Regions from separate parts of the Homo sapiens genome. Here region 1 is linked to region 2. A link means that fine-mapping ties the variant in region 2 to the expression of a gene that starts in the linked region. Tissue or cell type: whole blood. Region 2 holds a variant in brackets; the other region holds the start of a gene. All regions are shown on one strand. Distances are between the middles of the regions.

Region 1 (5,235 bases), 56 kb before region 2:
CTGGGATTACAGGCATGCACTATCACACTCAGCTAATTTTTTATATTTAGTAGAGATGAGGTTTCACCATGTTGGTCAGGCTGGTCTCAAACTCCTGACCTCAGGTGATCCACCTGCCTCAGCCTCCCAAAGTGCTGGGATTACGGGTGTGAGCCACCATGCCCAGCCTTTGTTGTTATTTTTAGTTGACAGATAAAGTTGTATGTATTTATCATATAACTTTATTGATGAATAGTGCTAGAAGTATGTTCCTGGAGTTGGATTCTGAAAGTTTAGGTTCAATTACTATTAGTCAAGTGGCCCTTAGGCAAGTCATTTAACTTGTATTAGATTCAGGTTTCTCATGGGATAAAACTGTGGGCTAAATGTTTAACCCACCGTTAATTGTAAAAAGAATCTTTTGTTGTTGTTAATGAGCATATCTATGTTATATATGCTCACATATAATTTATAATTAAGAATTATAAATATCATGTTAATACTGGGAATAAACAACTGGTTAGATCTGAGAAAGAGAAAAACCTATGTTCAGTGTTATTTCAGAAACAATTATAGATATATACTCACAAATATGGCTCCCCAGAATGGATAACCTGCTTTAAATGATGAAAAAATGTCTCCCTCAATGTGTGAAATATCAAGTACAGAGCAGACAACTGTTCCAAAACAAAGGCATATCATAGCAGTCAGAATTTGTGTTACCTATAGAAAAACACATGAATTTCATGAAAATCAAAAAAATTTTCCCGAGATTGTATCATTTTTTAATAATAGAAGCCAAACATGAGAAACTGCGTTAGTGTCCTAGACTGTCCTGAGAAATGATCCACACGTAAGATTTTCCAGGATACCCTAGCCACTATAAGAATTGATACAAGCACTACCTAATGCATGGAAGGCCAATACTTTTCTCCATGCGCCTTTATGTACGTAGTCATGTTGAACATCAGTAATTGTTCTTTACATCTAAGTAAAGATAAAGATTATGAATCCTTCACTCCTGTTGGCCATTCTCGTCCTAGCAATTTAAAGTCTTTATGAGGAAATGCTTCTCTCTTCCCAAAAGGACCCAGTTAGTGTCAACTCTTTATCTACCATGTTTTTTAAAGGACCTAACACCTCTCATGAATCCAAGTGGGAAAACAGTTGATGCAACTCAATATTCTTTTCTAGACCCAACCCTTACTCTAGTCAAAGTTGGAGGAGGCTCACTCACCCCCAGGAACTCCTGCTCTTTTTTCAAAACTGTCAGCCATGTATGCAGTGGTGGGGATGAGGCCGACTTCAATAGTCTGCCTGAAGATACTTCCTGGGGAGATATTTCCAAGACTTCAAATGCAGGCACACTGTGAAATTTAAAAGCAATTCAGTCATGAGAACATTCTGTAACTCCCTGTGCAACATTCTCGACAGACAGAAAGGGGAGTTTTGTTTATTTTTTCAAAGCCATCCTGTAATTCAAATCTTCATTGTAATCACCAAGAAACTAAAGCTCAGAGCATCCAAGTAACTGACCAAGAACACCTGAACACTATCCAAGTGATTAGATGGGACAAAATGGAGCAAAATCCATGCCAAATTTTCCTATTCTTAATCCAGTGTTACTTTCAAGTTCTTTCTCATTCATCTATGTTGACAAGTAAAACTGAAAATAAACACATTTACCTATGCATCTCACAATCCTTTTAACATAGAAATGTATCTGAATATATTTTGTCAGTAACAAACCCCAACTTCATGTGCACAGAATACAATGAAGGAATGGCTTTGAATAGCTAGATGGGACTCTATTACTATTTTCATCTTCAGAGAAGCATCCCACAGCTTATGGATTATAAAGACCAATCAAGAAGCAGGTTACTTTATCAAGTATTTATAAAAGCATGTGTGAAGGATATGTGTCCCTCAGCACATGTCAGACCCAGAAGCCAGAGATCTACATACACAGTATGAACTCTCCTGTCTCATACCCAGAAAATGAGCTTCTAATGTGAGAAAATCTATTTCCAGTTTGCAAGCTGAGTAAAAATGTTCCTCTCCAGGGAGAGAGAACCACATGGAAAGTACAGCAAGTAGCTTCCTCATACCCAATATATTAATTAAACTAGATGGATCCATGCCTAAATCAATAAAGTTTCATCTCCTAAGCACCGTGACTATGACTTCCCCTGCCACTAAGTGACTGAGGGTAGAAAAAAATAATACCTTGTACCTACCTGGAAGGCTCCTGTGGGAGAGCAAGATTTGCTCTCCTATTACTTTCTGTGTCCATTTTTTCATTAACCGAGCTGTCCAGGAATAAAGAATATTATTATATTGAGACTTGGTGGATTTCCTCTTACTGCATGCTCTGAATAGGCAGTTGAAATGGGTTACCTCATGACATTGATGATTCTCTTTATACATAAGTCATTTGCCAGACAGATAAGTTTCTTGGCTGATTAAGATCAACAGGCTTTTACTTGTGATGAATAGAAAAATTAAGAAGTCTACTAAATAAAGACTAATATGAAATAAGAAAATTTGAGACTCCTGGAGCATAATTTTGCCTGAGACTAGCAGGATTTACAGAACCTGAAAATGAGACATTTTAGTAGGAGTTGAGAAGGTGAGAAAGAACTGCAGAAAAGAAAGAGATGTGCCCTTCTTCTGGAATTGTCCCCACTTGTGTCCCAATTCAGCCATTTCTATGGCAGAAGTTATCCAATTGCACCTTTGAAAAGCTTGTCTTCCTTGTTTAAGGCATGCTTGGTTTCACACATAGACCCAAAACTGAAGTGCTGTTGTATGTGAGTGAGTATGTGTTAGTCTCTAAATCTCCAGATCCATCTCTGACTTTAATATCTATCATCTTTCTCTCTCTTTCCGTCTTTTGGAAACTGTTTACATGATTCGCTGCAGCAGATGGTCTTGGAAATACAACAGGCTGCATTCTAACTGCTGTGAACCATACCTGATAGTGTGTAAAAGCTAAGAAGACTCCATTGTCTGCTAAATTATTAGACTGATGGTGCTTAGATCTTTACAGTGGCAAGAATGGGATAGTGAGAACACTGAGAGACATGAACTTTATAACAAATCCCATGAGCAAATCTAAACAGCATTGGATTGAGTAGTATGCCTAAATTAGAATTAGGGCTAAACCATGTGATCATTGAAATACCATAACTAGCTAGACCATAGCAAAATCAGTACAGATAAAATTCAGAGAAGGTTTTAATCTCTTTTATTTCAGTTTAATTATAAACATAACCTTGAATGGCTTTCAATAATATTTAAGATACTAAAAATCACACCTCTAATCATGTGTGGTTTTTTTGGTGGGGGTGGGGGGTGAAAAAGAAAATCTTTTTGCAGGAAACTAAGATATTTGCATAAACAGAGTATACTAAAAGACATATTGGTATAGCTTTTGTATCTAAGTTTATTAACTCAGGTGTCATCTTCCCATGGTGTCTTCAGGAATTGGTGGACCTAAACAAGGTGCTATTGGAATTAAGGAATAGAACTTTCTCACTTATACGTTCATCCAAAAAGAACTTAGTGTTCCATGCCAGGCACTGCCCTTATCACTGTGCATGCACAGATGAATGCCAAAATCCCAGGTCCTTCTAGTCCACAATCAAGCAGAATAGAACAAAGATAAATGATATATTATTACCCAATATGTTGGAGGCCAGAGGATGTTGGAACACATAGAAGGGTAAAACAATTCTGCCTGATAGGGGATATGTAGAGTTCAGGGAAGGAATTCCCAGACAAGGTAACATTTGAGAGCAGACTTAAAATTAAAATGATAGCCTCGATAATTTTCTATTTTCTTTTTTTTTCTTTTTTTTTTTGAGACAGAGTCTCACTCTGTCACCCAGGCTGGAGGGCAATGGCTCACTGCAACCTCCGCCTCCCAGATTCAAGCAATTCTCCTGCCTCAGCCTCCCAAGTAGCTGGGACTACAGGAGTGTGCAGCAACACTGGGCTAATTTTTTTGAATTTTTAGTAGAGAAGGGGTTTCACCATGTTGGCCAGGCTGGTCTTGAACTCCTGTCCTCAGGTGACTCACTCACCTCGGCCTCCCAAAGTGCTGAGATTACAGGAGTGAGCCACTGCGCCCAGCCACGAATTTTCATTTTATCTTTCTTTTTCTTTTCTTTTCTTTTTTTTTTTTTTTTTTTTTTTTTTTGACGGAGTTTCGCTCTTGTTGCCCAAGCTGGAGTGCAATGGCGCGATCTCGGCTCACCGCAAACTCCACCTCCTGGATTCAAGCGATTCACCTGCCTGAGTCTCCGGAGTAGCTGGGATTACAGGCATGCGCCACCACGCCCGGCTGATTTTGTATTTTTAGTAGAGATAGGGTTTCTCCATGTTGGTCAGGCTAGATTGAACTCCAGATCTCAGGTGATCCACCCGCCTCGGCCTCCCAAAGTGCTGGGATTACAGGCGTGAGCCCCGGCACCCAGCCTTATTGCCTCCTTCTTAGTGAAATTACCCCACACCTGCTGGGAAAAGTCCTGAAGTCATGGTTCTGTGTGGCGTTTTCTAGTAGCTTATAGTAGTTAATTATTTGTGCAGCAAATAATCACTAATTGAACTTGAGATTTAGACTGGAAACAAACTGAAGATGGTCTTTGGTGTTTGCACACGATGCTGTTTTGTGAGAACTGTCAACAGAACCTTGCAAAATGCAAATCAGAACCTGTCATACCTTACGGCCTCCAAATTGTTTCCTATTCCAATTTTCACAACCACCTCCTTGCCCCTTCGTAAGTTACCTATTATCTTCTATGCCCACACTTTGGTTCCCTTCAGCCATGTTTTATCATCTTTCACAATAATGAACATTGAAACATATGACAAAATGACTGGCTTTTTTGGTGAGGCAAAATTATCAAGATGAGTTTTAACTATGCTGCTACCTGAAAGGAAGAGATAACAGAGCTAACACCCCTTCCCTACCATGTATCTTTCCTCCTCTAGCACGGTCTTTGCACATGCCTTTCACCCACCCCACATCTCTGGCTTCCTCTTTGACAAGCAAGGTTTCCTCTTTAAGTTACATACTAGATTTCTTTCTTGAAACTGACAAAAAATTTGCTTTTGTATCCATTAACAATTGTTTTCTCAAACTGAATGCTCAATTTACTTAAAATAAATATGCATGAATTTGCATGCTACAAGTTGAAATTTATGCTGTCTCAGATTAAAGCCTTAAAAGTAAAACCTAAAACCATAAAAACC
Region 2 (6,712 bases):
AAGCAATCCACCTGCCTTGGCCTCCCAAAGTGCTAGGATTACAGGTGTGAGCCACTGTGCCTGGCCTGAAATAGTTAATATCAATATTAGTTTCAGCTGATATAATCAACTTATTAAAAAAAGAGAATCAACTAACAAATTATTAAACTGATTAAAAATTCAACAAGCATGATGGATATTACTACTCAAAAAAAAACTTAAAGCAGTCATATGTGCTAATTTGGATTCATTGATCCAATTCAAAAAAAAAAAAACGAGAATAAAAGAATCCCATTAGTAATTGTTCCCGAGTTTTCATGAAACCCTGTAGAGGGCCTCATATTGGCAGTTGGTTGGCCCCATTCATTGTGTTCTACAATTTTTAGGGATACCTGATCACTAAGTTCTAAAGATAACAGTCTGTGTGCTTTGTTTCAATATATTGGTTGCACTGTCTGTTTGTGTAAGATTTGGGGCAACTCAAACTATACCACCACTGTGACCTTATCCCAATGTAAAACAACCTTTCTATGATACACATGCAGAATAAAGCAAGTGCATAAGGAAATTTTAAAGTTGTTATACACACTTTGTTCAGAGTATGCTTGGCAGAGACCCCATGTGTAATTATTTGTATTACCCAAAGCATATCTTAGCATAATGAACTCATATGTGTAAATAATTGATTAGCTTTATCAAAATTAAACAATAAATATTACAGCAGTTTTCTCTGTAGCTATCTAGGTTACACTATATATGCTAGAAGTAAAGGGATGGGAAGACTGCATTACTTAAATTCCTTTGTTAGGATTATTCGGGTGCCAGCAGTTGTAGAGGCCATCTCTGATCATACCTATCTGACACCTCCCTGTGCCCCACTTTGTCCCATTCTCTGACCAGGGCACCCACAGGACTGACTTTCAGTTTGCCTTTATTCTACATTTTGTCACAACTACTAAGGAGGACAAAACCTGCTAACTCCCCTAACCACATTAAGTTTGAGTCCAGCCTTTTTTGGAGTGATTAGCAAAAATCCTGTCTGAATACTGATGAAGAACGCAAGATAGAAAGAAAACCACAAAAACTGCTAAATTTAAAAGATGTTAAATTTTTAAGCCTGCACAAACATTAAGTGTTGACTCCCAAAGAAATCTTTCCCATCTAAATAGCACCACAAGTCACCCACTTATAGCCCCCAATCACAGGAGACATGCTTGATTCCAGTGTGTTTCTCACACTCTGTGTCCAAACCATTTGTATGTTTTAATATCCCGCAAAATATATCCTCAATTGTACCACTTCTCTTGACCCTTGGCTCTAACCTTTCAAGTCAAAAACAATTTTCGCCAACTTTCTGGTCAGCCTGTTACTGCTATGTCTCCAGGAAATTAACAAGATTCTTTAACCCAGAGACATTGTTTCTTCAATTTCACAGCTGCACAAATCCTTGTCAAAAATAAAACAGATTGTTATCCATCTGATCTCCCTTTGATACACTGTATATCCCTGAAATCATTATTATTGGAATTAGTGAATACTTACATTAAAAGTTAATTTTAAAAACTTAAGATTTTTCAAAGTATCAGACATTAAATGTCAAAAATTAAGATCTAAAACCAAAAGCATCTGGATCAAAACCTCATTCTGACATGTAGAGATTTTGGTCAATTGAATTCACCATTGAGACTTTTTAGGTTGAGTTAATGAGTACCTGCCTCATTACTGTAGTGATTGTTAAATAAATGCATGTATCCTATTGCAATGAGGGCCACAGATGGCTATTTTTAAATTTTAGGTTCAGGGGTACATGTGCAGGTTTGTTATATAGGTAAACTGCGTGTCACGGGGCTTGGTGTACAGATTAGTCACCCAGGTAATAAGCATAGTAACTGATGGGTAGTGTTCTATCCTCTCCCTCCTCCTACCCTCCATCCCTCAAGTAGGCCCTGGTGTGTGTTGTTCCCTGATTTGTCTCCACGTGTACTCAAGGTCTGGCTCCTACTTATAGGTGAGAATATGCGGTATTAGGTTTTCTGTTCCTGCATTATTTCACTTACGATTATGGCCTCCAGCTCCATCCATGTTGTTGCAAAGGACATGCCTCATTTTTATGGCTGTGTAGAGTTCCATGGTGTATATGCACCATATTATCTGTACCCAGTCTACTATTGATGAGCATTTAGATTGATTCCATGGCTTTGCTATTGTGAATAGTGCTGGGACAAACATGTGTCTTTATGGTAGAATGATTTATATTCCTTTGGGTATATAACCAATAATGGGATTTCTGGGTCGAATGATAGCCCTAAGTTTTTGGAGGAATTGCCACCCTGCTTTCCACAATGCTGAGCTAATTTACATTCCCACCAGCAGTAGGTAATTGTTCCCTTTTCTCTGCAACCTGGCAAGCATCTGTAATTTTTTTAACTTTTTTATAAGAGCCCAAAAATATCTTTTAATTGGGATTTATATTTCCAGGAGTAGTCAAAAATCTACTAGGGTTTATCGAAATGAAAGATTAGGCCAAGTGTCCTCACCCCTGTAATCCCAGTACTTTGGGAGGCCGAGGTGGGTGGATCACCTGAGGTCAGGAGTTCAAGACCAGCCTGGCCAACATAGTGAAACCCCATCTCTACAAACATACAAAAATTAGCCAGGCATGATGGGTGCCTGTAATCCCAGCTACTCAGGAGGCTGAGGTGGGAGAATCATTTGAACCCGGGAGGCAGAGGTTGCAGTGAGCCAAGATCGTGCCCATTGAATCCCAGCCTGGGTGACAGAGCGAGACTCCATCTCAAAAATCAAATAAAAAAGAAAGGTCAGGCCAAGTCATGCTGCATCTTTAATTTTACTCAAGGTGGAAAGAAATAAAAATAGTAAAAGAATCACATATATTCAGATGACAAAATTTTACTGTCATTTTCATTTCAAAAACAAAAGTATTCAGTCCCTTCAACCAATCCCAGCTCTTTTCCAGCTTCAGCTGTCTTGGGAAGGATTGAAGATCAGGAAATTGACATAGTTAGGTACCTGTTAGTCAACCAAGCCCAGCAGCTCAGCTAAGTTATTTAGCAGTTCTAGATGACTCAAATTTAGATGTCTTTGTATTCTCTTGGAACAAAAATCCCCATTTCTAGAGGGGAAAGAGAGGTACTTTCAGATTTAGCAAAAATAAATTGTGTCTAAAGAGGTGGAGAGAGACCTTTTTCACATTTTCTTGTGTCCATGAGTTTTTCTCCCTCCCAGGAGCAAGAAGTCTAGCCATAAGAATGTTCTGCCCCAACTACATTTTCCCTATGGAAGAAGACTGACCCTGCTTTGAGTAAAGATCATTTGTGTGCATGCATCCCTGCTCATGTATGTGGTACTTTCTGGTTCAGGCTCCCTGGAATGAGTTTGGCACCTGTACTCTTTTACAGTATACTCAAAGGCACAAGACTTCACTTCCAGAGATATACTAAGCAATTTAAATTAAGAGAAGAATTAGATATCTTTCCACCTGGGATGCAAGCTGTGATCAGCATGATCTGAGTTTTGAGCACTTTTGTGTTGGAATAAGCAGCTATTGTGGAGCCTGCCGTCCCTCTAAGGGATTTTCACTGGGCCTGGGACACTGTGCTATATGGAAGCTGGGAGCGAAGTTGTCACTTGGTTCCAGGTTCTTTATTAGAATAAATCATTTCCCTGTTCTGGGTACACAAGGCACATT[C/A]GCTGTATTGCTTAAGGTGTGGGTGTCACATGGCACTTGGCTGGTATCGGTATAGGTATACCTACCCCCTGTGGTAAGGTATCAGGGTCTTTGCCTACAGCTCCAGAGGGGTGCATGCATCCCCCACTTTGCATTGGCTATCAGGAGGGACCTACATGGGAGACTAATACACACAACAAATGCTGATTTTGCTTCATCTTTTCTCCTTGCTTCACCTTTCCTTCTCTCCGGACACACAAAAAAAGACACTGGTTCCAACCAGTGCCTTGTGTGTGCCAAGTCATCCTTGGCAACTCCAAGATAGATTCAGTGGGTCTAGATATGTGAGCTCCCACTCCTGGTGCTTGGCACTATTATTTTTGCCACCCTCCATGCAATGGGAATTCTTATTTGGGATTCATAGCTGGATCTCCCTACTCGACATTTTGCCGATCAATTCAGGAGCCTCAAAAGGAAGAGCAAGTCATCTTGTTCACTAAGAAAATCTCCACCAAAGCACTGATGGTGGGAAGGGTGGTGTGACAGTGTAGTTGTGGCCCTGTATGGTTACAACACTTTCAGAATTAGGCCAAAAAGCAACTGAAATATTTTCTTCTAGATTCTTGCTTTATCAAGGTAATAGAAAAGAAATGCACAATGTCAAAATAAGTTTACAATGTTTCCTCATGAGACATTATCAGGAAACAGAAAAGAAAAAAGCAGTATAGAAAGCCACAGATGAAGGGCTCATGGGAAAATCCTCCTTTTGAGTGCATTATAAAAGAGGGAGACTTCAATATATTTCACTAAGACACGGTTACGAAGAATAATGGGTAAAACTAAAGTGAGCAACTAAATCATAAAAATGCTGAATGTTAATTCAGAAAAGAACACACTGGGTATGGGCAAGCTTTATTATGTATGAGCTTGATTTCAGAGTTAGAATGGCAATTTCACTTAAAATTAACTCATTAAAAAGTATAAATATCATGGTATAGATATGTTATTCAAAACTCCAAAATGTAGTGAAACTGGTAACAGATGTTGCTACTCATCTTTGTACAGACACATCAACAGTATTGATGAAACTGGTTTTCAGACAAGATGTATCACTTGTTCCCTTGCTTTAGGGAGGAGAGGGTGTTATAACACAGGCATTATTGATACAGTGACTTCTTGGATAGTTGCTCCTGTAGGATAGGGGGGAAAAGCAGTTAAGAGCTGCTTAAATATAACCTTACCTAAAAAGAAAACACGTTCAGAGAACTCATGGGTGCTCAATTAGAAGTAATGTGGAAAAAAAAATCACATTTCTACCCTAAAATGTAATCTATGGAACTAACCAGCTATATCAAATATAACCATTAGATATTATGCTATTAGAAGTGATTAGCATCTATGTGTTGGCTAGATGACTGCCTTTCTGAGACTATCAAGTAATTACATCATACATTTCAACTTTGATTTTAAGTGGTTTTCAGATCTCTAGAACAAAGCTTATTTCTTTATGAAATGTCAACTTCAAGGCTATTGTCAATATGCACAAGTTTTCTGACATCCTTTTAAAATAAGCTCAGTAGAAAAATCCTGATTAAAAAGAGTGTTTTCTACAGGTATTAATCTTAGGAAAAGTGCGAATTAGATGTAGTGACTTCCTCTGAATTTAAGCCTAGTTTACCTATCTGCCTACTTATTTTATACACATATATGTATATAGACATGTTTTTCTACAAATATTAGTATGAAATTAGAGATCTGGTATGGGCCTTCTATGACAACAATTTCATTTTGTCACAGGCTATATTGAAAATGAACAGTTTAGTACCTGAGAGAATAGGTAAGGAAACTGACCAGTATGGAACCTATTCATGTTCATCTGCAACAAGAAAATGATAACTATATCCAAGTACAGACTACGGTACCTAATTCTACAGGGTTCATATTAAAACCAGAGCAATTTCAGCATGCAGCATTCAAATAGGAATTTACATCATTGCCTTCCTTGAAGTTATATTTAACAAATTGTGGTTAACTATAAAATAAACAACCTTAATATTCTCACCTTATTAACACTGTTAAAATTAAGTGTCCATGTTTTACTTTGTGTGGGAGTTGGTGACTCTTGTCCTTTTGTTTTTTGAGGGATTTCTTTCAAGGTGTGGGCATCAAACCCACTCATTCCAAAATGCATCACAGAGGGGAATTTAAGCCTAAATGCAGAGCAAACAAAAGAAAAGCACAGGATTAATAGCTGTACAGATTTTTTGTGGGAAAAATATGTATTAGATAGGTTCGTTATAAGTGATAACCCAAAATAACTGACTTGTGGAGGAAAGGCAAAGTAGCTCAGTAAATCTAAATAAAGAGTTTGTAACAGAACCTTGAATAGGATGGTACTTATTGATCCAGAATTGATCCTTGACTTGACTTTGAGGCTCCGGGGTCAATAAAAGTTTTGAAGAGCAAAATGATTGTTAGATGTGACAAACATTCTATCTATGCTGAATGGACTATGACTCAACCAAGCCAGGCCACACACACACATCCCAAGATTAGAAATTGAAAACAGAGACCCATATGTATGCAAAAAGATGCTACCACCAAAATCTTAGGCAGGAAATAGAGACATAGACACACCCCATTCCAAGGTTAAAAAGGATTTCACCACCTTTAACTACCATCTCAACCCTTCCCCATCCTATCTTAGGAGTTGTAGTGTTTATTCCCACTGCTGCTCTTTCCTTCCCTGCATGTAAGAAAAAGGAATGTGGTTTGCTCGTCTCTCAAAGCCAGCATGTAGGCAGTTCCAGGAGAATGATTCAGATTCAGAGTACATGTGTAAAGGGAGGCTAAAATCTCATTCAAATTTTCTATATCTCTTGTTGAATTTAGAAGGGCTAATATGTCCTGGCCTATTTGATCTGGGAGAAAAATGGACTGCGAATAGATAAGGCATAATAGCCTTTACTTCTATAATCTGCTATTGAAACCATTTTTTTTTGAGAGCTCAGTGGATGCCTATATAGACGGCAATATAGTTCAATC

Evidence for each region. PIP is the estimated chance that this variant, and not a neighbour inherited with it, causes the effect.
Region 1: it holds the start of MS4A2, and the variant in region 2 is the best candidate, but not a certain one, in a credible set for the expression of MS4A2 in whole blood (TOPMed, PIP 0.89).

What each region holds. Positions count from the first base shown.
Region 1 is chr11:60,085,803-60,091,037 of GRCh38, reverse strand. It overlaps MS4A2 (membrane spanning 4-domains A2), which reads right to left and starts at 2,374. Exons shown (of 7, transcript NM_000139.5): 1 at 2,217-2,374; 2 at 1,217-1,346; 3 at 568-702. The coding sequence starts at 2,272.
Region 2 is chr11:60,028,947-60,035,658 of GRCh38, reverse strand. It overlaps OOSP4B (oocyte secreted protein family member 4B), which reads right to left. Exons shown (of 5, transcript NM_001395278.3): 4 at 5,730-5,877; 5 at 4,564-4,857. The coding sequence ends at 4,825. Among named protein-coding and RNA genes, the nearest start is that of OOSP2, 8.1 kb to the left of the region's middle. The variant C/A (reference allele first, on the strand shown) is at 3,689.